Homo sapiens: one gene and its partners. The protein of the gene in region 4 interacts with the protein of the main gene of each other region in a biochemical or structural test. Each region holds a gene or a part of one and is shown on either strand. Other genes may lie near its edges. The genes, in order: RALGDS, RAPGEF1, RAPGEF2 and RAP2B.

Region 1 (8,579 bases), on a different chromosome or scaffold from region 4:
TTTAAAAACACTTCGCAAGCCAAACAAAACACATGTGTGGGTGGGATCTGGCTGCCAGCTGTCAGTTCACAGCCTGCCTTTTAAAGTTCCTCTGCGAGCAGCGTCCCGACTTCCGAAAGGTCTGTGCAGCCGTGCTCTCCAGGGGCTTGTGGTTGTAGCCCCCAAGGAAAGGCAGGTGCACGTCCCGGGGGGAGGTTGGGAACCTGGGAAGGCTAGGTGGGGGTGTGGGGGGGCGTGAGCTGGGGCAGGAGGGAGGAAGGGATCAATGCCGATTCATAAGAACCCCCCACTTCCGGGCAGTGCTTAGTGATCTCGAGAGTCCTTAGTTCCTCCCAGCAGAGGCTCCAACCGCCAAGCACAGGGTTGTCATTGGCCTTGAGTGTCAAACCCACCCAAGTTCACCTGGACTGCCCCCAGCCATCTCTGATAGCCCCATGTGGGCATCCGGACTCGGGTTCTAGCTGCCCACGGCCTCAGTCCCCACAGCAGAGCCCCCAACCCCTTTTGTAGTGAAGATGCCATCAGTGACCCCTGTGCCCACAGAGAGTAATACAGGAAACGGTGAGCCTGGCAGGAGTCACTGCCCGGGGTCAGAAGTTTGTAGCCCTCTCTGGAGGACTGCTGGGAGCCTCAGAGGCATCAGAGGGTGAGTCTCAAGCTGTGTCCTTTTTCTTCTTTTTTTGAGACGGAGTCTTGCTTTGTCGCCCAGGCTGGAGTGCGGTGGTGCAATCTCGGCTCACTGCAACCTCCACCTCCCAGGTTCAAGCGATTCTCCTGCCTCAGCCTCCCAAGTAGCTGGGATTACAGGCACGCGTCACCATGCCAGGCTAATTTTTTTGTATTTTTAGTAGAGATGAGGTTTTACCACGTTGGCCAGGCTGGTCTTGAACTCCTGACCTCAAGTGATCCACCCAGCTCAACCTCCCAAAGTGCTGGAATTACAGGCGTGAGCCACTGCGTCTGGCCATTTTTCTTCTTATAACTTTTATTATGGATAATTCCAAATAGACACAAAAATAGAGAAAATGGCATAAAGACCCCCAGCTTTCACGACCATCGGTGCAGGGCCACTCTTGTTCACCTCTCACTGCCCCACTCCCTGCCCGCCCCTGGAGATGTTTACATGAATCCCAGGCATGTGATGCCATCCACAGATAGCCCAAGATGTAACTCTACTAGTGACGGCAACACCATTCTCACACCTAAAAAGATGTCTAATGTCATCCAATATGTAGCAGTGTTCAGACAATCCACATGTCTTATAGTTGTTTTTTTTAAACAGTTGTCTTGCTGACATCATGATCCAAAATCCACACATTGCATTTGTTAGACGTCTCTGACCCTTCTTTTAGTCTAGTTTCCCCTTTCTTTTTCCTCTGAAATGTATTTGTTGAAGAAACTGGGTTGTTTGTCCCATAGAGGTTCCCACAGCCTGGATTTGTGGATTGCACCCTTGTGGTGTGTTGAACATGTTTCTCTGTCCCCTGTAATCCCACAAATGGCAGTTATATGCAGAGGCCTGCCTTGATTTAGGTTTGGGTTTTGAGGAGAACACTGTGAGTGGTGCTGCGTTCCTCCACTGGTGACACACGCTGTCCCAGGATGGCCTTGCCCTTGGTTAGGGTGTCCCCACAGCTTACAGGAGGCCTCAGGAGAGGGTCTTGCATGCAGGAGGCGTCCCATGAATGCCAACCCCAGTTGCTAACAGTGTGAGGCAGAGTCAGGCCCGCCCGATCTGAGGGCATTGGGCAACACATCCTGTGCAGGGAACTTTATCTGTGCCTTCATTAGGGGGGCATGTGTATCTGTGTTTCTGTCTCTATGTGTGTGTATCTGTGTCTATGTCTCTATATCTGTGTGTGTGTGTCTGTGTCTATCTCAAACTTGTTTTTTCCCTTTTTGTGGAGAATGGGGTCTTGCTATGTTGCCCAGGCTGGTCTCCAATTTCTGGGCTCAAGAAATCCTGCCTCTGCCTCCCTAAGCTCTGGGTTACAGGCATGAGCCACCACACCCAGCCTCTGTGTCTGTCTCTATGTCTCTGAGTAGGTATGTCTCTGTCTGTGTGTCTCTATCTCTGCGTGTGTGTCTCTGTTCCAATGTCTCTGTGTGTGTGTCTCCGTCTCTAAATGTGTGTGCCTGTGTCTGTCTCTGTGCGTCTGTGTCTCTGTGTCTGTCTCTATGTGTGTGTGTGTGTGCCTGTGTCTCTGTCTCTATGTGTCTCTGTGGGTCTGTGTGTGTGTCTGTGTCTCTGTCTCTATGTATGTGTCTCTGTGTGTGTGTGTCTGTGTCTCTGTCTCTATGTGTGTGTCTGTGTGTGCATCTCTGTGTATCTTTGTGTCTGTGTGTGTGTGTGTCTGTGTCTCTGTCTCTCTGTGTGTCTCTGTGTGTGCATCTCTGTGTATCTTTGTGTCTCTGTGTGTGTGTGTGTGTCTGTGTCTCTGTCTCTATGTGTGTGTCTCTGTGTGTGCATCTCTGTGTATCTTTGTGTCTCTGTGTGTGTGTGTGTGTCTGTGTCTCTGTCTCTATGTGTGTGTCTCTGTGTGCATCTCTGTGTATCTTTGTGTGTCTGTGTGTGTGTGTGTGTGTCTGTGTCTCTGTCTCTCTGTGTGTGTCTCTGTGTGTGCATCTCTGTGTATCTTTGTGTCTCTGTGTGTGTGTGTGTGTCTGTGTCTCTGTCTCTATGTGTGTGTCTCTGTGTGTGCATCTCTGTGTATCTTTGTGTCTGTCTGTGTGTGTGTGTCTCATGTACAGCCAGAGCAGTGATCAGGCTTCCCAGAAGTTGGGAGGTGAGTCCCAAAGGTAGGGGAACAAGGCAGGAAGAGGAACTTTGTAAAAACAGACACCGGCCAGAGGGACTGGCTAAGTAACGCCCTCCCCCGCCCTGGCTCCTGTAGATGATATAGTCAGATGGGAGGGAGCCAGGCCAGCCGCGTTGGGGGGTTTAGTGTGATGAATTCTTTACTCTTCACCACTCCAGCCTCCTTGGGGCCACCCCTCGCCCCAGCACCCAGGACCTTCAAGGCCAGAATAGTGGTGATTCCTCTATGTCCTCATGAGTCACTTGTCCTTCTGGGCTATAAAACGGGTGGGCGCTTGTTCCCAGGCCCATCACTCAGCGAAGGAGATAAAGAGAGCAGAGGAGATAAAGTCAGTGGCAGGCAGCTTCTGGACTTTCAGTTTCCGGAGGCATTGGGAGCTTGGCCCCAGAAGAAAGGGATGGGAGGAGGAGCTTAGGGCCGAGGGCAGTGTCTCGGTCACCTCTTTGTGGCCCTGTGGGGACCTCCTGCCTCGAAATACGCCTCACCCACATTACCCTCCCTGGCCAAACGGCTTGGAGGCTTCCTAAACAGCCTCTAGGGATCTCCATCCCAAATCAAATCTACCCATCTTGCTTCTTAAAAAAAAAACAAAAACAGGCTGGGCGTAGTGCTCCTGCCTGTAATCCCAGCTCTTTGGGAGGCCGAGGCGAGCGGTTCACTTGAGGTCAGGAGTTCAAGATCAGCCTGGCCAACATGGTGAAACCCTGTCTCTACGAAAAATACAGAACTAGCTGGGCATGGTGGCAGGTGCCTATAATCCCAGCTCCTCGAGAGGCTGAGGCAGGAAAATCACTTGACCCCAAGAGGCGGAGGCCTTAGTGAGCCGAGATCACACCACTGCACTCCAGCCTGGGTGACAGTGAGACTGTCTCAAAAACAGCATTTATCACATAGAGCTGATTATTAAAATACTGATTTTAGAAATTAGAAATTCAGAGAAGTAAAATGAAAACCAGTAGAGCTTCCACCCAGCTGCAACTTACCACCATAATTTTTGTGAAGTAGGCCCTTCTAGTCGTGTGCACATGGGGGTCTTGTTCTGAACGGATGAACTGCCGCCTCACTCCAGTCACAGTGGAAGTGTTTCGTGGGTGTCTGAGGATTGGCACTTGGGAAGGGGGCAAGATGTGCTCGTGGAATGTGCTGTCTGGTCCCGCCCTCTCAGTTTACAGATGGAGAAACTGAGGCCCAATAGTACGGACCAGACCTGGGGAGGTTGGCATGGCCAGGGCTGCTGGCAGCAATTGCTGGCCTCCATGAAGACTGAAGGCTGAGGCCAGGGCAGGCCCAGTGATGAGTGAGGCATGAGGAAGGGTCCCATTCATTCATCCATTCTCCTGGCCCTGCTGTTAAGCCCCAGGCTGTCTTCCTTCCTCACTGGCTTCCAGAAAGAGTAGTTGAGGATGTCCCTGTCCCTGCTTCCCCTTCAGCCCCAGCAGCCCCACTTCCACCCTGAGACCAGGGATGTCCAAGCCACAAGCAGCCCCAGCTGACAGGCCACGCAGCCATGTGCTCTGCCCAGCGTTGTCACTCTTGATGCCTTCCTCCTTGTCAGATGCCTCTCAGCCCCAACCTTGGTGCCTTCCGCTCTCCCCCACCTCCCTGGCTTCCCCTCCTCTGAGGGTGTCTGTAAGGGGATAGTGTGGGGCTTTGCCCCAAAAAGGTAGGGCCCCACTCTCTGACCCTTTCCCCCACTGCACACACAGCCCCACACTCAGGATTTCCAATTGCACTGACAGGGTCACTGAACACATGGTCAGCCTCTCCAAACTCCGCCTGAGCCTGTAGTCAGGTGCAGGTGCTCAGTGCTGAGTGCTTCATGTCCATTACGTAATGTCATCCTCCCCGCAACTGTTTGAGGAAGTCATTTTCACTACCCAGATTTTCCAGATGAAGAAACAGTGAGGCTCAGAGGGGTTAAGCAACTTGTGGAAGGCCACAGAGTTGGGGAGAGGCTTTGCTGGAATTCGGGGTAGCTGACTCCAGGGCGGCTTCCCCACACATGATCAGCACGTACACATTTCAGCCCTACGCAACACACGCACTGCAGCAGCGTGACACGCAAACGGTGCCTAACCGGGGTACCCAAGGCCCCACGACACACGTGACAGCCGGTCCTCCGGGAGACCCAGCCAACGCGCACCCCTCGACCTCCCCGGCCCCGCCCTCTTTGTTCAGACCCCGCCCCTCCAGGCTCCCGGTCCCGCCCCGGGTCTGACCTCGGCGAGGGCGGGGCCGCGGGCGCGCGCACGCACGCGTCCCTCGGACTCTCCGGTTCCGCCCCTCCCCGGCCCCACCCTCTTCCCCTCCGGCCCCGCCCCCCAGCCTGACATCAGCAGGGCCGGGCCGCGGGCTCACAGCGGTGGCAAAGCCCAGCCGCGCGGGCCGCGCCGCCGCCCCCGCCGCGCGCCGGGCCGGCCCCGCGCCCGCGCTGCGAGCCTTCCATGGTGCAGCGCATGTGGGCCGAGGCGGCCGGGCCTGCTGGCGGCGCCGAGCCGCTGTTTCCGGGCTCCCGGCGGAGCCGCAGCGTGTGGGACGCCGTGCGCCTGGAGGTGGGCGTCCCCGACAGCTGCCCGGTGGTGCTGCACAGCTTCACGCAGCTAGACCCCGACCTGCCGCGCCCGGAGGTGGGTGAGCTGGGGCGGTCGGGCGGGGGGTGCGTCGGAGCCTCCCCACCCGCGGCAGAGCTGGGCAGGTCGGGGCGAGCCCCGGACGGGGCCGGGCGATCCCAGCGGGCCGCCTCCCTCCTCTCTCCTCCATAGGTGGGGGTCGGGGCCTTCTGCAGAAATCAGCCAGCAGGGTGGGCAGTGGGGGCTGCCGCCGCGCCCCGTCCAACAGTAGGGACCACGGCTGGGGTTTTGCGCCCCTCAATACCGTTCCAGGGCCTGCTGTCACCAAGGCCGCTGCAGCCCAGGTGGACCTTTTTCTGCGGCACTGTCCCTGTTTACATCGGTGGCCTGTGCCTTATTTCACTCAGTTCCCACCCAGGGCCCGCAGCGCGTCGTTAGCCTTTACGATGCAGGTGTGGAACAAGTGGTCGGGAAGGCCAAATCCTAGAATCCTCAGAGGTGATGAGACCATAGGGGCCTTCCAGACAGACCCTACTTGGGGCAGATGTGGATCTGGTGACCAGGGACATCGGGGCTGCTCAGAGCGGGGTGGGGGGGGGGTCGGGGGATGGGGTGGAGCAGCAGGCCTCCAACACGTGGGACCAGATGTCCTGGTGGTGAGGGGAGGAGGGTGGCCCAGGCCCAGGGCGGGCAAGACTTGTTTCTGCTTAACTGGAAAGAGTGCCAACACCCTGAATCGGTAAGGACTGGGTAGGATTCAGAGAAGGGAGTGGTGTACCTGTGATGGATGGAGGGGAGGGTGACTAGGTGAGGGCGGGGGCTTGTTTCTCGTGTGCCCTGGGTCTCTGGGTGGTGCCATCTGCCTCCCACCTGACTGCTGCTGACTACACAGCAGAGGGAGTGGAATCCAGAGATGCCCCCCTCGCCCTGCTCTGCCTGGGCACAGGGCCTGCACAGAGGCCATTCCTGGATCGGGGGCTCAGGGCCCATCAGAGCTTTGGCTGGGCTGCAGCCTTCACAGTGAACCTCCTGAGTCCCCGTGCGGCATCGTGTTGCCTTGCTGCGTCTCCAGTCGCTTCATGGCTTTAGACTGTGGCGCGTTGTGATTGCTGGCGATTGTTAGCCTGAGTCTCGTGCCTCTTGGTGTCCCGGTACCTAGACAGGGCCTGGATGCGACTTGTTTCTCCGCCCAGTGTTGGGCAGAGCTCTTGGTGGGGGAACACCACACGCCTGAGAGACCCTTTCCTCCTGAGCTTGGCAGATGGCCGGACCAGACGTGTTCCCTCAACCCTCATCTATCCAGGGCTCTGGTCCTCATTGGCGGCTGGAGAGGGACCCCTGGGAGGGTGGGGGTGGGAGGCTGACACCAGCCCAGCGCTCATCTGGCTTTCATTACCTCTGGCAGCAGCTCGGGCTTTGTGTGCTGGGAGGGTCCGGCGGAGCGCTCACAGTGGCCGTGCAGGTTCCCTCTCTCCGTCCCTGAGGAACTGAGGGAGAGGCAGAGCTGAGCCCCACCCCTGCCTGGGGGTCTTGTCTTCCCTCTCTCTGGCCCTGGCGCTCCTTGCCCAGCCTCAGCACTGAGATCCAGACCTCGACTGCTATTTAGAAATCAAAGGGGAAGCTTCTGGCTGGGTCAGGAAAACCAGGATCCTGGCAGGAGAGGAGGCCACTGCCGGAAACTGAACACAATGACCATTTACCAAGGGCCCAAGGGAGGGGGCGGGGAAGTCCCTGTCCCTCCTGCCAACACCCCCCGTCCTGGGGCTGGTTTCCTGGTGTCTATGTGGCCTGCCAGAGCTGACGCTGCGCACTTGGTCCCTGTCCTCTCTGGAAACCACCAGACAGTTTCTGCCTTCCCCCGCATCCCTGTTTCCCTACCTAGCTTCCACCCGGTGCTTCCCTCTGGGCTGCCAGATCTCCTCACATCTGGGCTTCCGCTTATCTTCCCGATTCTAAGCCAAGCCACCAATGACCCAGCTTGGCCTGCACAGTTCTTGCTTTCTGGAGGTGACCTGGTCCGTGCCCCCATCTCTGGACAGGCTGTTGCTTTGGCCAGACAAAAAGTGCAGGTTGTGGGCCACCCCCTCACTTCATCTGCCTTAGACCAACCCTACAGAGTAGGTGCCAACACCACCTTCTAGGAAGCTAGGGGGTCAGAGAAGGGAAGTCTCTGACCTAAACACCCGTGCAGCCAGCAAGGGCCGCAGCCAGGATTTAAGCATGGGCTGTGTTCTCTGTGGCACCTACTGTGTGCAGGAGCCACCAGGAGTCAGAGGAAGCCCAGGCAGCCCAGAAGCCCTGAGGTCAGGTGAGCAGTAGGGAAGCTTATGGCTCAGAGGAAGGCAAAAGTGCTTTGGGCCACAGGACGCTGGGGAGAGCTACCTGGAGGAAGCAAGCCCAGAACTGGACCCCACAGGTTTAAGATAACAGCTAATAAGAGCCAGCAGGTTTTGGGGAGGTCCTTGGCTAAGTAATTTGCATCATCTCCTTTTGGGGTCAAGACTGTTAAGAGCTCACTTGACAGATAAAGTCACTGAGGCAACAGAGGTGAATTAGATTGCACAGAGTGACCAAGCTGGTCAGTGGCAGGGCCAGGATTCTGACCCAAGGCCTGAGGGCAGTTGCAGGTGGGCTGGAGTGAAGAGGGCTTCTCTGTATTCACAGGGAGCATCTCCCTTCAGCCTCCCGCGTCTTCCCACTGTTTGATCTCTTGATCACACTGTGTGCAGGTCTTCGGTTTAATCCCCAGGGCTCATGAGCACTTTGACACTGAAGACCCCAAGGCAAAGGGCCTGTCCCTGTGTGGGTGTGTGTCCCTGCATGCATGTGTACAGACTGTGGTCTTCCAGGAGAGCTTCCTGGGTGACTCTGAAGGGGCAGCCCCCAGGACCCTCAGGTTCCCCTCTTGCTCTACTCGGGAGGGTCCCCCAGAAGAGGGGGACCAGGCTGGCTGGTCCTGGGTCTTTGTTCCTTCTCCAGGCGGGGGATGCTCAGGCATGCTGGCCTGTTTCCCGGGAGGCTCAGGAATGGCCCTGGGAGATATCAAGCTGCTCGTTGCCAGAGCTGGGGTCTGATTCTTAACCTGGAAATTGGGCATTTCCAGGACCTGTCTGCGTTGCCAATGAGAAAAGAGTGGGGAGATTTATCACTGGCCCTCTGCAGGCAGGCTCTGAACGAGCCAGTGGAGCGG
Region 2 (8,072 bases), on a different chromosome or scaffold from region 4:
CTATGAGACATTCTTTTTTTTTACCAATAGATTCCCCTTTGCCAACATTAAGTAGGTATCTACAACACGTGACCAAACAAACACTCTCTTATCTAGACCCCGCCCTCCCAGGATTCATGTCAGGATTGAGGCAGTGACTGAGCAGTGCCCAGCCACAGGCAGCCCTCAGGAAGCATCAGCCCTCATTCCCATGACTCCTGTTAGTAATGGTTTCACCTCCTCCTCTGATCTACAATGGTGATGTAATGAAGCAATACTCTCTGTCCACAGGGAACGGACAGTGGTGTCTGGGAGTTCAGGCAGGTGCCTGCTAACAGATCCCACCAATCCAAGCTGAGGTGGGCCCCTGGCCACCAGCCTCACTCTGGCTGTTTTCTACCCGAGTCTCGTGGAGTTCCTGTTGTCTGAATAGCTGAGTGTTGTCTGCAAACGCAAGAAGAGGATGTGGCGCTTTTGCAAGGGGCCCCCATCTAAAATAGTCTCTGTGAGCAGGCTCAGAGCCACCTAACTATTTCTTCCATCTTCCACCATGGAGTCTGGAGAGCTGCTAGGGTAGAGTGGTCACCTGGCTCACCCCATCCTTCCCTGGAATGTTGGGAGAAGGCCTGACAGCACCCACCCGAGTGTTGACTGAGCCCCTTCCCTCTGCTGGAGTTGGTGCTGCCGCAGTACAAGAGCCCGGCATGACCCCTTGTCTTAATAGGGCTTTATTTTCTGTTATCTTACAATTTATTTTGTTTTCAGACACAGGTCTCACTCTATTGCCCAGGCTGGAGTGCAGTAGCTATTCATAGGTGTGATCATAGCACCCTACAGGCTTGAACTCCTAGGCTCAAGTGATTCTCTTGCTTCAGCTTCCTGAGATGCTAGGCTGTTCCACAGCCTCTGCTCCCAAGTTTTCTCACAATTGGCACAATTCCTAGGCTGGCCAAGTCACATATTCTACCCCATTCCTGCAGTCATTGGCCTGGGGATAGACGTGTGACTCAAACTGAGCTAATTAGACTCTGCCATGGGGCTCTCTTTGAAACAATGAGGAAAGAGATCCTCTTTGTCCATTGGGGTTGTTAAGCAGGCAGGTGACAGGCCCAGGACTGCTGGTGCCCAGCTTCACCCTTTGCTACCTTGTAGAGAAAGATGACCTGAGAAGGGAACCAACATAGAGGACCAATGGCCTTGTTCCAGAGCCTGGGTTAGCTGCATTTGGACCTAATTGTACACCTGGTTTACTAATTATGATCTTCAAAAAATGCCCTTCTTGCTGTAAGCAATAGCAGAGCTAGGTTTCTGAGAGTGAAATCAAGTTTCCTAATCAGTACAGGAGGATGGCCCTGTTGGGGCGTGTCAGGGAAGCATTCTCCATAGAAGTGACAGTGAAACTAAGAAGCAAAAGATGACTGGGACCAGCCAAGTGGAGAGGAGGGGAGGGAACATTCTAGACAGCAGGAGCAGCTCATGAGAAGGTTCCAAGTCAGCCAGAACTGGGCTTTGGGAATCCGTTTGCTTCATTACCTTGTGTGTGTTCTACTATAGTTATAAACATCTTTGATGAATAGCCTTTATTAAGTAAGTTCTGTGACCCTGATTTACCATAATGTCCATTTGCAAAGTACTTTGTTGTTTGCAAATCTTTTGTCATTGGATATGTCATAATTTATTAAATATATTTGTGTTCTCACAAACCCCTGACTGCACCTAGTATCCATGCAGTCTAGTTTTCTACTTTTCAACCAGGATTTTGGATTTAAAATATCGGCTCTTCTCAGCTCAGAAGCCTAGAAGGGTTGGGGGCAGCATTGAGTGTGTTTTGGGGTTGGGCCTGGGACCAGGGGCCAGTTTTGCCTGGTAAGGCATCTGCCAAGAGGGCTGAACAGGGCCACCCTGGATCAGAGCATCCATTCATCAGGTGGAAGAGGGAAATGAATTTGTCAATCTTTGGATTTGCCTTTGACCTCTAGAGGGCTGCAACTGATGAAATGATGATGGGAAATTTGGCTGCCATCTATGACCATCTCCTTTTTTTTTTTTTTAAAGAGGGAGTCTCGCTCTGTCACCCAGGCTGGAGTGCAGTGGCGCGATCTTGGCTCCCTGCAACCTCTGCCTCCCAGGTTCAAGTGATTCTCGTGCCTCAGCCTCCTGAGTAGCTGGGACTACCAGCGCGCACCACCACGCCCGGCTATTTTTTGTATTTTTAGTAGAGATGGGGTTTCACCATGTTGGCCAGGCTGGTCTCGAACTCCTGAACTCAGGTGATCTACCCACCTCGGCCTCCCAAAGTGCTGGGATTACAGGTGTGAGCCACCACACCCGGCCTGACTAGCTCTTAGTTGTGGAATCGGTGACCCTTTAGACTGTCCAGGGAGATGGGAATAAGAATCTCTCACAACATTAGCAGTTTTTCCTCCTCCCTGCACCTCCCCCAAATCCTGTCCCCATCACTAGGTTATTTAATTTACTTATTTTGGGGGAAACAGGAGGGAAAACTAGCCCAGGTGGTGCGTGCTACTTCTTTGTATTCCATCTTAGACTAACAACAGGAAGCAGGCAGCAGAATTGCCCCACATTGGAACATCACTTGCGTTACTAATTTGTTGTTATTTACTACTTGTATTATAGGATTTAACTTTGACTTCCCAGCTAAGTTGTGAACTCTTTGGAGGGAAGCACCAATTGTGCCCACTTTTGTAGGGCCCACAGAACCCGAAATAGTGCTTAGACTTAGCAGATCCTTTGATTCTTAAATGACTTTTTTTTTCCTTTTTTTTTTTTTTTTTTTTAGCCAGGGTCTTCCTCTGTCACTCAGGCTGGAGTGCAGTGGTGCAATCATGACTCCCTGAAACCTCTGCCTCCAGGGCTCAAGTGATTCTCCCTCATCAGCCTCTCAAGTAACTGGGACTACAGGCAGGTGCCGCCGTGCCTGGCTAATTTTTGTATTTTTAGTAGAGACGGAGTTTCACACATTGCCCAGGCTGGTCTCGAACCCCTGGGCTCAAGTCATCCACCCACCTCAGCCTCCCAAAGTGCTGTGATTGCAGCCGTGAGCCACTGTGCCCAACCACGACTTTTTTTTTTTTTTTGAGACGGAGTCTCGCTCTGGAGCCACCAGGCTGGAGTACAGTGGCATGATCTCGGTTCACTGCAACCTCCATGTCCTGGGTTCAAGAGATTCTCCTGCCTCAGCCTCCCAAGTAGCTGGGACTACAGGCGTGTGCCACCATGCCCACCTAATTTTTGTATTTTTAGTAGAGATGGGGTTTCACCATGTTGGCCAGGATGGTCTCAATCTCTTGACCTCGTGATCCACCTGCCTCGGCCTCCCAAAGTGCTGGGATTACAGGCGTGAGCCACCGTGCCCAGCCACGACTTTTAATGAACTCATTTCCACACTAGAAAAGTTCCACAGCTGAGCCCCAGGGTGCCCTTCTGGATGTCAAATAAGCAGGGCAGGCAGGGTGTGCTGTGTCCCTGAGGGAGTTGGGCCCAGGCCAGCATGGAGGCTCTAGGCCTCAGGGGACATTTAGGCCTGAGTAGGGCCAACCCCAGCCCGGGACAGGTGGCTCTCGCTGGCAGGGTGACTGAGTCCCACATGCAGGGCTGGGGTGGAGAATGAATCCTCCGCCTTGGCATAGACCTTGGGCCAGCAGAGGGCTTTCATGCCAGAGTGGACTCATTCCCCGGCTGGAGCCTCTGGGCTGGCAGGAGGTGCTATGAGGCCACTCCCAGGCCCTGGTGTGGGGTCTCCAATTAAGAAGGGGGTGCGGGCAGGGTGCAGTGGTTCACACCTGTAATCCCAGCACTTTGGGAGGCCAAGGTGGGTGGATCATGAGGTCAGAAGATCGAGACCAGCCTGGCCAACATGGCGAAACCCCGTTTCTACTAAAAATACAAAAATTAGCTGGGCATGGTGGCATGTGCCTGTAATCCCAGCTACTCAGGAGGCTGAGGCAGGAGAATTGCTTGAACCCGGCAGGCAGAGGTTGCAGTGAGTCGAGATCGCGCCACTGCTCTCCAGCCTGGCGACAAAGTGAGACTCGGTCTCAAAAACAAAAAACAAAACAAAAAAGGGGGTGCTGCATCTCTGGTTTGGGGGAGGTCAGGACAGGCTCCCAGCCAGCAGAGCTTGTTGAGTCCTGGTGAGAGTGAGTTCTAGGCCCTGGTGTGGAGCCTCTGGCCCACAGGGGATGCTGGGTCCGGGATGATGCTAGGGTGGGGTGGGCGTCAGTTCCACGTCCTGGGGTGGAAAATCTGACCCAGGAGGGTTCTCTGTGTCTCTGGTGAGGGGGCAGGCCAGGCTCTTGGGCAACCGAGGACCCTGGGTTGGAGCTGTCAGTCCCAGGTCTGGAGCTGGTGACTCTGGTCCCACAGCAGAGGAATGCGGAGTCCCAGGCGGGGTCGGCCCCACACCCCAGGCCCCAGGCCCCGGCGTGGGGACTCCGGCTCGGCAGGGGGCGCTGCGTCTCGCGCGTCGCGCGGGAGGCTCGGGCGGCTCCGGGCCCACAGGGGGCGCTGTGGCGGCGCGGCGGGCGCCCGGCAGGTGGCGCTGTGGCCGTGGCCGCGGCCGAGGCCCGGCGGGCGGGCGGGCGGCGTCGCTGCGCTGCGGCCGGCTCGCGGGCCGGGGGAGCGGCGGCGGGCGCGCGGGAGGCGGAGCGGCGGCGGCGGGCGCGGCGGGAGCGGCTGGGCCCGGGCGGGCTGGAGCGCGGTCGCCGAGCGCAGGGCCGCGGCCGCGCGGAGCCCGCCATGCCGGCGCGGGTCTGAGGCGTGGCGAGCCAGGGCCGAGGCGAGCGGCGGGCGCGCCGCCCCTGTCGCCCCGCGGCGGCCCGGCCCGGGCCCGATGAGCGGCGGCCTCGGCCTCCGGCGCAGCCCGGAAATGTCCGGCAAGATCGAGAAAGCAGGTGAGGCGCGGGCGTGGGGCGGCTCCCTCCGGCCGGGCCCGGCCCTGGGGCTCCGCCGCTCCCCGGGCCGAGCGCGGGTCGCCCGGGATGTGCGGCCCTCCGTGCGCCGGGGCGGGGTGAAGCCACCGAGGCCTCGCCGGGGCGCCTGGCAGCTTCTCCTCCAGGCCCATTGCCTGCCGGGCGCGGGGGGAAGCGGCCGCTGCGGGGGCGCCAGGGGCCGGGCCGGGCGGGGCCCCTGCAACCCGGGGCCGGGCGCGCTAGCCGCTCCGCGGTCCCCGGGAACTTCCGAAAATGGCTCGAGCCCCAAGCAGGGGAAGAACAGCCCGGGCCGCGTGCTGCTGCGGCTGCAGCGATCGGTGCCCGGCCTGGGCTCGGCGCTAGGAGGGTGAACCCAGCTGAGCTGTAAAATGTGTCATTTCTAACGAGCTTCGAGTTTAACGAGAAGCGTCCACTTCGGTTGCTTCAAAGGAAGCAGGCTGGATGAGTGGGGGTATTTTGAGGAGGTAGTCAAGTTTCCCCTCCCCACCCCGATCAAGCTCAGCTCTGCAAGGAGGGCAGGTGGGGGACCGGTGGGTTGGAGTAGATGGTAAATCTTGATGCAGACCTCGTCTCTTTGTGTGTTCCTAGAAATCTGGGGGAGTTACCTTCCGAGTCCCTGGGTTTGCCTGTCCTGGAAATAGAGTCTCCAAAGATTCAATGACTGTCGAGCCTGTGGGGCCCCAGGCTTTATTAGCCTGCAGCACCTTGCAGGGCAAATGCGAATTCTTGGGTCTAAGGTGAAGTGGGCGGGTGCTCCTGGGCTCCTGTACTGGGAGCATGCCCTGTGGTCATAACCCCGGTAGCAGGTTAGCTTGGCGGCTGAATGAGGGAAAGCAGATTTTTAGGGAGCTGCAAAGGAGGTCTGTGGCTTTGATTGTGGAAGTTGCTTATGTTTCCTGGGTTGAATCTGGGATACTTCTGTGGGGTGCACCCCTGCAGCGGACCCACAAGGCAATATGACTTTTGCAGGCTGTGGTTGAAGCACAGAAGGACATTTTTGTAGGCTTTATTGAGGGTTTACTATATATCTAACTCTTAGCACCTAAAATGCATTGCTTCTTAAATTTTTGAAGCTAGTCTGTGGGAAAGAATATGGTCCCAGTTTTACAGGCTCAGAGAGGTTCAGTGAGTTCCGGCTGTCCAGACAGCAAGAGGGCGGCAGGCCCCTAGTATATTCATTCCTGGCCCTCTGACCAGAAGCCAGGGTGCTTTTCTCAGGGGCAGGGCGCTTGGGTTCAGGTGCCATTTCTTGAGTATTTTTCTCACTGAATTTGAGCCCCCACAGCCTTGCCGAGTGACCATGAGTCGCCATCCTGTACACCTGCTGCTCCAGAAATAACTTGGGTTCATCTGTGCAGCATTTCTCAGGAACTTCTTGTATAGTGTCTTGTCAGAACGGTACTGTTGGGAAACTTGGATAATTTATTTTAAAAAGAACATTCACTGAGTTCTTTTATAAGAACTTTATAATATATAAGATTATATTATATCTTTTTATATCTAATATAAGATTATATTATGTTTTATATCTTTATAATATAAGAATATTCTATGTTCATTGTCAAAACTTGGAAATCACAGAAAAGTAAAATGAACCGGATTGGAAATCATCTGTCAGCCAGGTACAGTGGCTCACGCCTGTAATCCCTGCATTTTGGAAGGCCAAGGCAGGAGGATCACTTGAGCCCAGGAGTTTGAAACAAGCCTGGGCAAAATGGCGAGACCTCATTGCTACTTTAAAAAAAATTTTTTTTTTTTTTTTTGAGACGGAGTCTTGCTCTGTTGCCCAGGCTGGAGTGCAGTGGTGCGATCTCGGCTCACTGCAAGCTCCGCCTCCTCCTGGGTTCACGCCATTCTCCTGCCTCAGCCTCCCGAGTAGCTGGGACTGCAGGCGCCTGCCACCACGCCTGGCAAATTTTTTTGTATTTTTAGTAGAGACAGGGTTTCACCGTGTTAGCCAATATGGTCTCGATCTCCTGACCTCGTGATCCGCCCACCTCGGCCTCCCAAAGTGTTGGGATTACATGCGTGAGCCACCGCGCTGGGCCTCTTTTTTTAAAAAAAGGAAAAAGTTGCCTGTCATCCCATGAGCTGCCCAAACCGCTGGGAATGAAATGACTCTTCATTTGAGTTCTCTGCTATTTGGGAGAAAGACCTGAGGCCAGTTCATTTCAGCATAGTTTGTCCTTGGGCCTTTTCTGGGCACCGCCTTCTGCTAGGGGGTTGTAGATGAAAGTGCCTGCTCCCAGAGAAGCTTGTCTAACCTAGCACAGTTTCTAAGCTACCCAGGCTGCCAGACCGAGCGACCGTGCTGCCATGGACACAGGTGAGAGAGGGGTGTCATGAGTGCGGGAATGAGGAAGACACTGGAGGGGACAGTGTTTGTGCTAGGCTCTGAAGAGAGGGCTGAGATATATACCTGGTGGAGACAGGGAGAAAGAGGAGAGAGGGGAAGGGGCTGACCAGGAGCTGCGGAAAGTGTGGGAGGAAGATGCATTTTGTGAGAAGCAGAAAAAGTAAGAGTTCTGAGATTGGCAAGACCAGGGTCAGGACCTCGCCTGCAGATTGGGGATTGCAGATGTGGAGCTGGCTGGAAGTCCAGCCTCCTTGCAGAAGGTCTTTTGCTGCAGTTCATAGGAATCATAGTGAAAGATTACAACTGCCAAGGAAGACTGGGGCGCGCCTGGAGTGAGGATGACCTTTCCTGGTGGTCTCTGCTGGCTATTCTCAGTGAACTTCCCTTTGCATTTAGACGACATTTTGTTAGATTTCTGTTGGAGTTTTTTTAATGGACTTCCCACTATTCAGTCTCCAGAGGAGTATTTGATTCAGAGGAGAGGCCCTTAGGTGAAGTGGTGGCAGAGCCTGACACCAGGCAAACAATTGTTGTGATTGGAGTTTTGCTGTTTTGTTATCTCAAAGCAACAGAAACGTTGCTTAAATATGTTCATAATCTCCTCTCCCTGAAAGTAGAAGAACCAGCGTTTTTAGTTCTCAGTGCTTAAGGCATCCAGGGTTTTTTGGGTAAACAGGAAACCCCTTCACATCCCGCATAGTGTGCAGCTCTGGCCTGTTCCTCATCCCGCCCCCTTGCATTGCCTGATACCTCCTTGGTGTGCAGGACTCTCCTTAACCCCTGGG
Region 3 (7,847 bases), on a different chromosome or scaffold from region 4:
AGATCTTTGTCTAATTCTGTCTTCCAGGTTGTGCCTAGCACATTACTGGTGCTCAAATGTTAATAAAACAGCAATGCATGCCAAGTATCTGATGTCCTAGATGCTGAGTGGTGATATGCATTATTGACATATGTAGATAAGTAGGTTATACATAGTGTGAAAATTAGCTTTAATTGAAGTTAAATGATAGCTTAGAAGTTGACAGTGAGTTAGTCATTTTGTTGGTGGATAAGACATACTATTATGTCTTACCTGAGGTGATTGATGTAATTCAGTGTTACAGTAGAGCACACAGAGAAAAAAGACTTGGGTGTGCAACTGGAATTCCTAACTCTTGCTGTGAGATCTGGCAGAGAGGCATTCCTGTCTGGTGTAGAAGGTCCCCTCTAGCATCCCCCCTCCCCATGGGGCAAGGAGTTCCATACTCTCTGAGCACCTGGAACCCTGGTCCTGACTGCCTTGCCACTTCCAGACCTCATCTTCCAAGGCTGGCCCCTGGCCCGAGGAATCACCAAGGGGTGGCTTTTTTGAGGGGTGTGATATCACTTAGATGTGTAGGCTGGGTTGTCCTTGTCCTTTTTTTTTTTTTTTTGAGATGGAGTCTCACTCTGTCACCCAGGCTGGAGTGCAGTGGCTTGATCTCAGCTAACTGCAAGCAACCTCCACCTCCCAGGTAAAAGCAAATTTTCTGCCTCAGCCTCCTGAATAACTGGGACTATAGGCACACGCCACCACGCCAGGCTAATTCTTGTATTTTTAGTGGAGACAGGGTTTCACCATATTGGTCAGGCTGGTCTGGAACTCCTGACCTCGCGATCTGCCCACCTCGGCCTCCCAAAGTACTGGAATTAGTACAGGCATGAGCCACCGCACTAGCTGGGTTGTCCTCTTATGTGTGAGCCTTTCCATGGGATAGGATGAAGCTGAGATGGAAAGAAAAGGGGATTCCAGTTGCAGACCAGATACCAGTACTCCCTGCAGTAGTACTCAGTACTCCCCCAGTTAATTTGTAGCTTTTAGTATTTATGATAGAGTATATGGATCCCCATTTGTTAGCTGGCTCCAGAACTTTCTAAAGTTAAAGGCAGTCCGGGAACTAGGACAAGTCATGTAGCCTATTTTAGTGTCAGTTCTTCATCTGTAAATAAGATAACACTGTCCCACTAGCCTCAGAGAGTTGCAATGATGAGAATAATCTTAAATATAACTACCATTTATTGAGTATATACTGTTGTTAAACCACTATGCAAGGCACTTTGCATGTATTATCTTGGATCGTCACAAATCTTCAGGGTATGCAACTTTTTCTTTTTTTGTGACAGGGTCTTGCTCTGTTACCCAGGCTGGAGTGCCATGGTGTGATCATAGCTCACTGCAACCTTGAACTCCGGGGCTCAAGATAACCTCCCACCTCAGCCTCCTGAGTAGCTAGGACTGCAAGTGCACCCCACCATGCCCCGCTCCTTTTTTTTTTTTAAGTTTTTGTGCAGCCAGTGGTCTTGCTATGTTGACCAGGCTGGTCTTGAACTCCTGGCCTCAAGCTATCCTCCTGGTTCAGCCTCCCAAAGTGCTGGGATTACAGGTGTAAGCCACTTTGCCTGGCCAGACTATTCAATTTGTACTCTCTTTTTATAAAACAGAAAACAGGCTCAGAGAGGTTAAGTTTCCTCTCCCAGTTTTCTCCCCGCAACCAGGGACACAAGTGAGATAATGTATGTAAAAATCTCATACAAATACAAGGTAACATGAACTACTTCATGTATCCATTTAATACCTATTTGTTGGCTGCCTGTCTTGTGTTGAGGATATAGCAGTAAATAAAAGGGACAAACATCCCTGACTTAGAAGCTTACATTACAGTGGAGGGATAAAACAATAAATAAAATAAATAAGTATAGATGGTTCTCAATTTACGATGGTCAATAAATTGACTTTCGATTTTTCCACTTTATAATGGGTTTATCAGGGTATTAAATGCATTTCTGACTTACAATATTTGCGACTTACAATGGTTTCTCAGGATGTAACCCCATCCTAAGTGGGCAAGCACCTGTACAATATACAGTATGTTAGGTGGTAAGTAAAGCGACGAAGATAACCAGAGTGTATGGAGTTACAGGGAAGGTGACATTCAAATGAAGATATGATGACAATGAGGAACAACATTCTATATTTTGGTTGTTGTGTGTGTGCATTTTTCTTTTTGTTTTTTGTTTTTGTGGGTGCAAGTGGGGTGGGGAGAGGGGGAGAGATAATCCAGGCAGTAGAGGGAACAGCAGATGGAAAGGTCATGAGACTGGAATTTGCTGTTTCAGAAACAACATGGAGGCTAATGTGCTTGGGAACAGAATAGTAGAAGAGGTCAGAGAGATAAAGGTCCATAGGATATTCAGGCCATGGTAAGACTTTGGCTTTTACCTTGAGTGGTATGAGGAGCTAAGCAGAGGAATGATTTGAGAAGGAGTGAAAAGAATTCACACTTTGGCTGCTGTGTTGGAAATGAACTGTATGGCAAGCAAGGTTAGAAAGAGGGGGACCAGGTGGGTGGTTATGACAAAGTGCTGGCCAGACATGATGCTGGATTGCACCAGGGTCATGGCAGTAGAAGTGGTAGATAAAGGTTAGAGTTCAGATATGGCATTCTGGAGGTTGAGCTGACGATTTTTACTGACACTTTTGAGGTATAACAGAAAGAAAGGAGTCAAGGAAGTCAACGTTTTCACCCAGGAAGTGAGAATGGTGTAGATGTGATTAACAGAGGATGGGGAAGGCTGTGGGTGTCTGAGACAGGAGATCTGGAGCCTGGTTTGCACATGTGAATTCTGAGATGTCTATTAGACACCAGGTGGAGATGTCAGTTATATTTTTTCACTTCATTGGGTTTGAATTCTTTTATCTGCCTCTCTCCTTTTTTCAGAGCTGTATTGGCACTTATTCATGTTCCTTTGCTTTCAAGGTAGTGGCCTATGTCATAGAGAATTTGATGTTGGCGCTCAACTAAGAGGTGAAAGAGAAATATAGAGAAGCAGTTCCAGCAAGAGTAATATAAAAAGGTCTACAGATACAATTTGTAACTCAGATTCCCTTTCACAAGGTTGGGCAGGGACAGTCCCTTTGCTAGGAAGTCACACAAGCTGTTTAGTGCACACAGGTGACTTAAGGAACCCCAAAATGTTAGCTGACAATCTATTCCAAGTGTTTAAACTAGATGTTGAAAATCATGTTTGAAAAGTTCAACGCAGTAGCTCATACATAAAACTCATTGTGTCTATAGATATCAAAATAAGAACTTGTGGGGGGTGGGGGCAAACAAAAATAAATCCCTGGGACCAGAACAGCAGAGTGGTCCCCGATGCTTGGGCTGACCTTAACACACCTCTACGTGGCCGGGGCAAGGAGTGGGGGGGAGCTGAGGGAATCAGCAGGAGCGGTGACATCTTGAAGGACGAGGTATTGTTTCTGCACCATGTGGGTCCGGTTTGGAAATTTGAGCATCTAGAGGAGGAGGCTTGTTCTGTCCAAGGCAAAGCCAGACCTACCAATAAATGTTTCTGATTATGTCACAGAACTTGCCATCCTGGTCTGTCGCTAAGGAGTGATCAACTTTAAATCTGGAGTGTTTGTTGGTCTAGGGGTGGTAGTGGGTCTGGTGTTGAAACCTCTCTGCCTAATTTCGTGGTCATTTTACTGTCTGAGGTGCCAGAGTGGGCTTGGAAAGCAGGGGAGGGTGCAGCAAATTACAAATAAGCAAAATAAATCCTAAGAGGATTTATCGCCACAGAAGCAACTCGGACGCAACTCTTGGGCTCAAAAAGAATGCCCAGTACAGCCCGGGCTGGTGGGCCGGTCTTTTGCCCAAGGTTAGCTTTCAGCCCCTGGGCGGCGGCGTGGCGCCAGGAGCGGGCGGGGAGCAGCGACCCGACGCGGCTGGGTCTCCTAGTAGGGCGCGTCGGGTGTGGGGAGGGGGCGCGGCGTGAGACAGTGGGGGACACTGCGTGAGGAAAGCCCTGCGCTTCTCTCCGGGGCACCAGGACTTGCGCCCCCTCTTCGGGTCCAGGCCGCGCGCGGGACCCGACAGCCCGGCCGAGGGCTCCGCGACCCACTTGCGGCCAGAGCGCTGCTCACCTGGGCGCCGCCGAAGGTGCCGCTCAGACGCGAGGGCGCGGCCGCTGGCGGGCGGGGAGCGGGGAGGCGGGACCCGGCGCGACGGGGCTGCCCCGCCCCCCGATGATGCGGCGGCCGCCGACTCGCCCCCACGCTGTCACTCATTCCTCACCATGGTTGCAGCACAAAGCAACAAGCCCCAGAGGCCGCTTCCTCCCTGAGGAGCGGCTCCGGCGGCCGGAGAAGGCGCAGGAGGAGGAAGAGGCGGAGGAAGAGGAGGGGAATCGCCGCTTCCCAAACACTCTCTCCGAGGGGGCTGTGCGCGGCTCTCGGCTTTCGGCCCTCGGACGCCCGCGCCGGGAGTCCGAACCCGGGCTGTCCGCGGCCCCCTCTTCCCCCTCCTCCGCCCCGCGCAGACGAGGAACAAAGTTGCCGAGAGCGACTGGGCCGGAGGGCTGCAGCCCGGGCCGGGTGCTCTGGCCGCGGCGGCGCCGGCGCCGGGGCAGCTCCGCTCCGGGCGCGCTGATGGGGGGAGGCGGCGGCGGCGGAGCCCACAGCGGCGGCCCGAGCAGCAGAGGCGGCGGCGGCGGCGGCTGGGCGGCCCGAGGGGATGCAGCAGCAGTCGGGAGGGACGGCCGAGCCCAGTAGACAGAGACCAGGAGCGGCGGCCGAGGCGATCGGGCTTCGCAGCGCCCGGACCTGAGCCAGACCCACCTGGTCCGTCCTCCCGACCGGCGGCCGAGGCGCCCGAGGACTGGGGACGCGGAAGATCCAAGTGATTCTCGGAGACCCCTGGGCGGCGGCTGCGCAAGCCCCTGAGAGGAGGGGGCGACCCTCAGCGCCGTGGGGGAGGAGGCTCCGCCTGCCCACAGCCCTCCCCACTGCCACTCGTACCTCCCTAAAAATAACTCGGGCCCGCTGGGGCCAGGAGGAGCCGCCACTGTCCCCCGAGTGGAGCCGGGGAGGCGTGTCGAGCCAGGGCCGGAGGAAGCCGGCGGAGCGGCGAGGAAGAGGAGGAGGAGGAGGAAGGGGAGTTCCGCCTGCGGGCCGCATCGCACGGCAGCCTAGGGGCGCCGCGACCCTCCCGGCTGCGTCCAGCCCCTCGCGCCTGTACCGCGCTCTCGGCCGCCGGGCCCAGCCGAGCCGCCCCCCCGCGGGCCCCGCGCCGCCGCCGCCGCGGTTTGGCTGATTAGTCGCGGGCGGGCGGGCGGGCGCAGCGCGCAGGGCGGAGGCAGCAGCGGCGCTGGGCCGGGAGGAGGCCGGCCAGGGTGCGGAGCGGCCCCGGCCCGCTCCCAGAGGGGAGATGGCGTCCTACGTAGATAACAGCTTCCGCCAGGCGGTGATGAAGAATCCCCCCGAAAGGACCCCCCAGGTGAGAACGCGGCGGCCGCCTGCCCTTGGCCGGATTTCTGCCTCGCAGGCTGCGTCTTCCCCTGTCCCCCCACCTCCTTCCTGACACAGTTCGCCCCGAGCACCCCACTTCTTGCATCAGGACCCCCAACTTCCAAAGGCATCCCACCTCCGAGTCTTTTACTCCGCCTATCCTGGTTTTATTTTTCCCTCTCCTTGACATTCTGCTCCTTAACTCTTCCCTCCCCATGACTGACCTTTCCCACTATGTTGCCCAGCCGAGAGAGAGAGAGAGAGAGAGAGAGAGAGAGAGAGAGGGAGAGACAGAGAGAGAGAGAGAGAGAGTGTGTGTGTGTGTGTGTATGTGTGTGAATGTGTGAATTCTCTAGCTTTCCCTCTCCCCAGCCGCCCTCCGTGGCCTCTGAATCTCAGGGGATGGAGTCTCATCTCCCCTCGGGCAGCGACTCTTGCTCCCTCTGACTCCAGATCCGTTCCTCCCCTTGCAAGTGACCCTTGGAGTTCAGTGGTGTTTGAAAGGTATAGGAGGAAACCTGTACGGTTGTGCTAAAGACAAATCCATGCTGACCTTCAGTAAAACATTGAGGTGTTTGTATGTTTACTGTTTTGCTTTTATTTTTTAAAGGATACTGCTTTCAATTGAAGGGAAAAAAAGTTGAATAGCTAAGTTAGTGCTTTTAGTTTAAATTGCAGACATAGCTGCAGAGCAGGCATGTTCCAGTACACCCTCGGGAAGGGCACCCTGCGGATTCTTTTGGTGTTGCACAACCTTGTCAAAATTAGATAAGTTTGTTAACCTTTATACATTTGTTTACCTGCAGGCTTACTCTTCTCTTACTTATAGCGGCTGATAGGGTTGGATTTGGTTGTCTCAAGTTTTACTGGAGAGGGGGAAATTTTATAAAAATGTGGTAGCTTAATTTTCTCCGCCTTTAGTTGCTGACTGGATAATGACGCATATTCCTAAGCGTTGGGATGGTGACTATAGGAGATCCTGCCTGCCAACCCTCTTAAGACAAATAAGCCCTCCTGATCCTTGGGACCATCAGACATTTAGGATCTAATGCTTGAAAGTGTTGCTTCGCTTGTTAGATGTTGGATGCCATCTGTTCAAATCCAAATGCTCTCCTTCTCTGATGTTGATTATTATTTACTGTGGGGAGAGCATAATAAAATAGACTCTTCCCCTGGCTGCCTTTGGACAAGCCCCAAGAGTGGCACCTGGTACCGTTTTTGATTTTTCATTTTCCTTGATGGAGCTGTCACATCTGGGAGATCATGGATAGATTGCACATATTTATCAAACGTGTGGAAGATGGCTGTAATTTTACAAGAAAATTTATCTGTCTCCAGAAAGTTCCCATTCTAAAAGACTATTTTTATCCCAACAAGGAATGTCCTGCATTGATCTTGTTCTTCTCTTGGTGTTGCACACGCTGCCTTTCCTATGCCTTTCTCATCTATTTGTTTTAAAATGGTCAGTTGGATCAGTCTTCTGCATCTGAAAATGCACATTCCCTGTCTCAGTGTGAAGGAAAAGCAGATTTCAGTGAGATATTTCATTTCCTTTCAAGAATATTGTTTTAAGTGCCAAGTGAAATTACGCATGCTGAGAATATTAGAACCTAGCAAGGCTGGTCAGAAAATGATGTCAGAGGCCTTTGGTGGAAATTAGAGAAGGGGGAAGTGGTGCATTTGGTTGATTAGTTAGAAGAATAACAATGACTAAAACCTACTATCAGGTTGGGGGGCGGGTCACCAAACAAGACTAGAAGAGACAAAACCTCCACTGTGACTGTGGGCCCACTGTGCCAAATAAATGAACTGTTAAACTTTCCTGTTCCCCTGCCAGTTGTGTAGAATAGAGTAAAAACTGACCCAACACAGAACTTGGCCTGGGCCAGCTACTACTAACCCACGACATGAAAGCTTTATTGACAGTCGGAAGGCAGCCCATTTGCCCTACCAAACCTTCATAGAAAAAGTAAACATAAGGAAACCTACCAAACATTTCAAACATTCCTAAGTGTCAGCCCTATTAACTTTGATGTTCGTTTGGTTATTACTACAAATCCCCACGTTTATTTCTTTTCAAGAGAAAGTTGTTCGAAATGTGAACGTTTTCCATCTTTACCTGACTGGCCAGGAGTAATCTTATAAAAATTTGAAATTTACTCAAAAATTATAAAAAAAAAAGTTTTTGTAGAAGGTACTTTTTATGTTAAGAATGCTTTGTTAATGGAACGCTGGAAGATTTTCCATACAGCCTTGTCTTATAAATGTTTGTGAGTTCGAATTTTATAATATTAGAAAAGCAACCATGTTAAATAAGCTTGATATCATGAACAGAAGGACAGGAATTAGGAAAGTTTTGC
Region 4 (5,882 bases):
GGTTTTGATTTGGAAATAGATTTAAAAGAAAACAGGCTAAGATAATATCCTTGTTCTCATTTACACCCTGCAGTTTGGACCACATTTGACCTCATAAGTTTTTCCTTTTAACAGTAGGAGGCAGTGTGAGCTTTTTATTTTTTATTTTTCTTAAGGTGGTCTTAGTAATATAACATGTTCATACATATCAAGAGAGTACTTGGTATACCTTAGGTCTATGAAGTGTAGCTGAAATCTGAAGAGTCTTGACAAAGGGATTTACACCCTTGACAAAACCAAAAGAAATTAACAGGCCACAGGTTTCTTTAAAGCTGTGTTAACATATCTTGCCTTAAAATGTGTGTGTGTGTTTTTGCTTTGCTTTTTTTTTTTTGCCCAAGAGGCATCTCAGTACTCCAGCAATGGAGGAAGAATAGAGAATTTTGCCTGGCAATGGTCCTACTGCCATTTTTTTTTTCCCACTCTGATCTCACTTAAGTTTGATATCAAACACAATTGGGAGGCAATAGTATCAATATCCTAAATGTAGAAATTAAAAGATACTGTATAATTTTATGCCTTTGCAAAGATTCGTTCTTGTATTTGAATAAATTCAGTTGCTAAAGTAGATCCAAAGTGTTAAAAATGCTGAAGTCATGTCAAGTACTGTCTGGAGGGTTTTTTTAAGAAAAGGCATTTGGCATTTAACTGTCTCTTGTTTTATTTTTAAGTTTTTGGAAACCTTTTGACATAAAATGCTGCCAAGTATCTAAGAAATGTATATACTGACAGAAGATATTTGAAAGTGGAAAATTGGAAATGAAATATGTTGCTGGGTGCGTTAATCACCTCCGCCCAGGATTTAGTCACTTGCAGGACCTCTTTATAGTCTAGGATGGCAGAGCAGAAGATTTTAATATGCTTTTATTAAGTGATGTAAAATAAATGCTTTTTGGATTATCAATGAAAGCAATTTTATGTGTGCCTGAAGCAAGAAAATAGCGTTTTTGGTTTTATCTCATATTTTCTTGGCAAAATTGAGAGAAATTAGGAACACTGCTATTTTTTTCTTAAAAATGTTTTTAAGAATATGTTCGTTTCTTTGACTATTAAGAACCCCTTGTGGTATTAGTGTGTGAAGAGATAAGGGCATTTGTTTCAATGAAAAAGTTAGTGTTAAAGGAAGTGAGTCAGGGAGGGCGGAGTTTGTTGTAAGGCAATCACCTGTCAAAACAGAAATTGGGTGGGAAAGGAGTCTTTATCTTGGGGAGCAAAAGCTGACTTTTAAACTTGACCCCTGCTGTTTTTAAACAGCTTTTCCTTTTGGTCTCTGACAGTCAATCCAGGTTTTATGTTATTTCAAAAGGGTTATTTTTGTCCTCCTTTTTTAATAGCTTCAGGAAAGTTAAAGGTATCATCTTAGGTCTAACACTCTAGTCTTTGAGAGTTACGGTTCTTTCGTAGAACAATTTCCATGTTGTTAACTGTTGTAGACTTAATTGAATCACATTTTGGGACCAGATGTATTTGGGGATAGAATTCTTTAAATGTATGGGACTTCATGCTTCCTGATTATGTAATATTTCCTGTGGTTGGGAATCCTAGAATGCCTGATCTATTTTATCTGTTCAGGTAGTTTTGTTATTGTACCCTCTTTTGGGTCATATTCTAGTATTTCTCACAGGGGGTATGAGAAACAGAAAGCTATATGTAGCAGCTGGTCTTGAGAAGTAGAAGCATCTTAACTGTCATAAGAGCATAGATTTTTTGTTTTTCACAACAGCTGGAATAAGTTCCTGCATTATAAGTATAAAGGGAACCGAGATTTAATTTGGAGATCATCACTGTTAAAACGATACCAGACATTTGTCACAGTGTCTTATTTGGGGAAAGTTTGCTAATATACATTTTGTCTGTGAAAATATAGTAAATTTTAAAATACTAATATAATGTGGTATTCTTGATTACAGTATTTTATGCAGACTATTAGGAATGATTCAGTGCATTTAACTGAACACAGAGCTAGTTCTAGGTGAGTGAGATCTTTATCTATTAACTGGATTTTGAAGGTTTGAGAAGGCTATGGGGATCATCTGGTTGAAAGGTTCTCAAACTTGACCATATATCAAAATCACCTGGAGCTTAAAACATGTACTGCTGGGACCCTCCTCCAGTTTCTTACCCAGTGGGTCTCGGGTAGGGTCTCAATTTTCATTTCTAACAAGTTTCCAAGTGATTGTGTTATTGCTGTTCCAGGGACCACACTTTGAAAACCAGTGATCTAGACTGAACTCCAAATGAGTACTATACTGACAGCCACCTAGATATTGAGAGACACAGACTTCAGACTCATGTCACACATTTTGGAGTGCTGTCTACTACAGTTAGAGAATAATCTCTATTGAAATCTAAGCTAAAGAGGACATATACCATTTATACTAAGACTAACTGTTGTGTGTGAAATAGAATAAACATTGCAGGTAGTTTTTGATCATTTTCACATTATTACAGGAACATTTTGACTATGGTTTTCAATGTTAATTCAGAAGTTGACTTTAAATGAAAATGTGGTTAGAATAGAGGCAAAGCCTAAGTGATCAGAATCAACATTCCCCTTCTCCCCAACCTAGGGGAAAAAAAATTTGAAAAGTATGTCTTCAATAAAAGGGGACACTTTATTTGTCTTCTCTTCAACATTAAAAAACAAAGATTTTAAGTTTTCATGGCAAGGGTTCTAAAAATCATTGTGCCAGAGAATTTAAATCTTCATATCATGGTAAGCACATGCGTATGTCTGTGACTCAGTTTCTTAGCCAGACTTCCAGGTGTTAGTTAATTCCTTCTCATTTAGTTCTACTGTAATCCATTCTGGGAAAATGCATACCACAAAACTGTGTATCTTGCAGCTTCTTTCGTTATGCATCTTAATTCCCTCAGAAGGTCCCAGAACTTTATGTTAAAGATCTGGGTTTTTAAAGACAATTTGGGGGCCTTCTAAAGAAACAATAGTAGATCTAATTACAAGTAGTGGATTGCTTACTTCAAATTTCTCTTTTACAATTTAGAAAGTTTAGTACCAGTTTATAGACTGAGGGAGTAGTAGCTACTATTTAGATGCTGAGAATAATATTATCATGCTTGGGTGGGGAAGAAAGGCCCTTACTCAAATCTCCATTTTCATTTTTAATGCTTCCTGGACTTCAGTTATTTTCTTGCTTTTGCCTCAAGAATAATAAATATTTTTGGTTAAAATTTTTTTTGTTCAACCCTGTTGTTGTTACTGTTATTTTCATAGCACAGTAGTCTACAGCTCTCTATAGTAGCTTAATAGCTATTTGCTGAATGAATGGAACATGGAGTGTTACATCTGAAACTATTCTATTAGAAGGTGAAAAGTGTTGATTGAAGAATGGTAGGATTTTATCTTCCCTACCCATGATAGATTTATTAAGATTGTCTTTGGAGCTATGTCTTCCATTCCAACTATACAGAAATAAACTTTTTTAAAGTTTAGTTTGCCCATCTGATAAAGGAACATTCCTGTATGCTATTCTAAGGTTCATTTTCAACAAAAGTTACAGACATTTATGGTTGATAGTTTGAGATCTATGACAGTTTTAGGGAGCTCCATATTCAAAAGGCTATTGCTGGTGATAGTACAATGAAACACTGACTTCAGTATATTTTTATCTTGGCTTTCATTTTACGGTTATTTCTACTACTGTTAATATGGACTAATACTTGATTTTGTGAACCTGTTTTAATTTTAGGGTTATATTTATGTTGGAATAATATATTTTAAAAGTGTCCTATACTATGAATTTATTTGCCATATATAAGACAATCAGAATTATCTGGTAGTTTATTCTAATCCTGGTTAATAATCATTAGGACTAAACTATTTACATTAAAGAAGGAAAAAACAATGAGATGATAATTTTTTTTTTCTTTGAGACGGAGTCTTGCTCTGTCGGCCAGGCTGGAGTGCAATGGCGCGATCTCGGCTCACTGCAACTTCCGCTTCCTGGGTTCAAGCAATTCTCCTGCCTCAGCCTTTCCAGTAGCTGGGACTACGGGCGCCCTCCACCACTCCCGGCTAATTTTTGTATTTTTCATAGAGACAGCATTTCACCATACTGGCCAGGCTGGTCGTGAACTCCTGACCTTGTGATCTGCCCACCTTGGCTTCCCAAAGTGCTGGGATTACAGGTGTGAGCCACCGCACCCAGCCTTTTTTTTGAAATGGAGTCTGGCTCTGTCGCCCAGGCTGGAGTGCAATGGCGCGATCTCGGCTCACTGCAACCTCTGCCTCCCAGGTTCAAGCGATTAGCCTGCCTCATCCTCCTGAGTAGCTGGGATTACAGGCGTGCACCACCACGCCCGCCTAATTTTTGTATTTTTAGTAGAGATGGGGTTTCACTACGTTGGTCAGGATGGTCTTGAACTTCTGACCTTGTGCTCCACCCACCTCAGCCTCCCAAGAGTTGGGATTACAGGCGTGAGCCACTGCACCCGGCTGAGATGATAATTTTATTTAAAAAAAAAATTGTAGAGATAGGGTCTTGCCGTGTTGCCCAGGCTGGTCTCAAATTCCTGGGCTCAGGAGATCTTCCCTCCTCAGCCCCTCAAAGTGCTGGGATTACAGGCCTGAGCCACTGCATCCAGCCAGGAGTGACAATTTCTAAAGCCTTAATTAGTGAAATGGTTTGTTTTGAGAAGCAGAAATGACTAAGTGGTATAGACATGCAGGAAAAGCAAAATGGGCCTTATGGCTATTGAAATTATGAGTGTTGATCTGTTCTATAAATTGGAGGAGACAGCTATTTGCATTCTTTCTTATCCAGTTGACTAAACTTACTCATTTTAAAATGAATTATCTTGCAAAATTATGTGAGGTTAAGTTTGTCAGAGGATTGAAAACGTGGTTGGTTTATTTGTGGTAATTGTGAAAAATTGCAAAGGTAGCAAAATTTTTTAAAAAATGGAAAAGAGAAAGATTATTGATGCCTTGTGAATACAGGTGTCCCCAAAAGGCCTGAGACCAACCTTAATTATCAAGAATATGGTTGCAGTGGAAATTGGTAAACAGCTGAAATTGATTCATTGATTATTCAACACTTATTGAGCACATACTACTATTATTAATAGCTGTACTGCGAGCGCTAATACTTAAAAGAGGAAGTCAGGTGAAGGCGCAACAGCTTTATGCTCTTTTTCACTATAATCTGTGAAATAGTGTATATTAAACAATAATAGTATATGGAAAAGCACATCTACATGTGTCATCAGTTATAATACTGTGGGGCTGTTTGGCAGACAATAGAGTAGATAAATTTATTGAACATTGGGCCTTTGAAAGGTATGTGGAAATTGTAAATAAAAATGGATTCCATGAATTTCAAATAATAATTGTTCTGTTGTATGTGAAACTGTGTAATAAGATTGTCATTTTATTTACTTTTCTGCATCATTTTCAACTTCCTTTTTGAGATTAGCTAAAATTGAACACTTACAAGAGGAAATGATTTTACTTTTATATTTTCATGTCCAAGGGAAGAGGAAAACATGAAGAAAACAGATTTATAAAATTTACTCACAAGGCTGGGCACGGTGGCTCACACCTGTAATCCCAGTAGTTTGAGAGGCCGAGGCAGGTGGATCACGAAGTCAGGAGTTCAAGACCAGCCTGGCCAAGAAGGTGAAACCCCGTCTCTACTAAAAATACAAAAATTAGCCGGGTGCGGTGGGAGATACCTGTAATCCCAGCTACTCAGGAGGCTGAGGCAGAATTGCTTGAACCTGGGTGGCAGAGATTACAGTGAGCCAAGATCGCACCACTGCACTCCAGCCTGGGTGATAGAATGAGACTCCATCTCAAAAAAAAAGTAAAATAAAATTAAATT

What was found.
Region 1: the proteins of RAP2B (region 4) and RALGDS form a complex in vitro, tested with the Homo sapiens proteins (one study listed by BioGRID).
Region 2: the proteins of RAP2B (region 4) and RAPGEF1 form a complex in vitro, tested with the Homo sapiens proteins (one study listed by BioGRID).
Region 3: the proteins of RAP2B (region 4) and RAPGEF2 form a complex in vitro, tested with the Homo sapiens proteins (one study listed by BioGRID).

What each region holds. Positions count from the first base shown.
Region 1 is NC_000009.12:133,117,839-133,126,417, reverse strand, and holds the start of RALGDS (ral guanine nucleotide dissociation stimulator), read left to right. Parts: upstream 1-5,177; 5' UTR 5,178-5,263; coding exon 5,264-5,446; intron 5,447-8,579. UniProt on the Homo sapiens protein: Functions as a guanine nucleotide exchange factor (GEF) activating either RalA or RalB GTPases and plays an important role in intracellular transport. Interacts and acts as an effector molecule for R-Ras, H-Ras, K-Ras, and Rap.
Region 2 is NC_000009.12:131,736,590-131,744,661, reverse strand, and holds the start of RAPGEF1 (rap guanine nucleotide exchange factor 1), read left to right. Parts: upstream 1-4,585; 5' UTR 4,586-4,831; coding exon 4,832-4,892; intron 4,893-7,214; exon of another isoform or gene 7,215-7,247; coding exon of another isoform or gene 7,248-7,257; intron 7,258-8,072. UniProt on the Homo sapiens protein: Guanine nucleotide-releasing protein that binds to SH3 domain of CRK and GRB2/ASH. Transduces signals from CRK to activate RAS. Involved in cell branching and adhesion mediated by BCAR1-CRK-RAPGEF1 signaling and activation of RAP1.
Region 3 is NC_000004.12:159,098,756-159,106,602, forward strand, and holds the start of RAPGEF2 (rap guanine nucleotide exchange factor 2), read left to right. Parts: upstream 1-4,323; 5' UTR 4,324-5,407; coding exon 5,408-5,476; intron 5,477-7,847. UniProt on the Homo sapiens protein: Functions as a guanine nucleotide exchange factor (GEF), which activates Rap and Ras family of small GTPases by exchanging bound GDP for free GTP in a cAMP-dependent manner.
Region 4 is NC_000003.12:153,165,246-153,171,127, forward strand, and holds the end of RAP2B (ras-related protein Rap-2b), read left to right. Parts: 3' UTR 1-5,382; downstream 5,383-5,882. UniProt on the Homo sapiens protein: Small GTP-binding protein which cycles between a GDP-bound inactive and a GTP-bound active form. Involved in EGFR and CHRM3 signaling pathways through stimulation of PLCE1.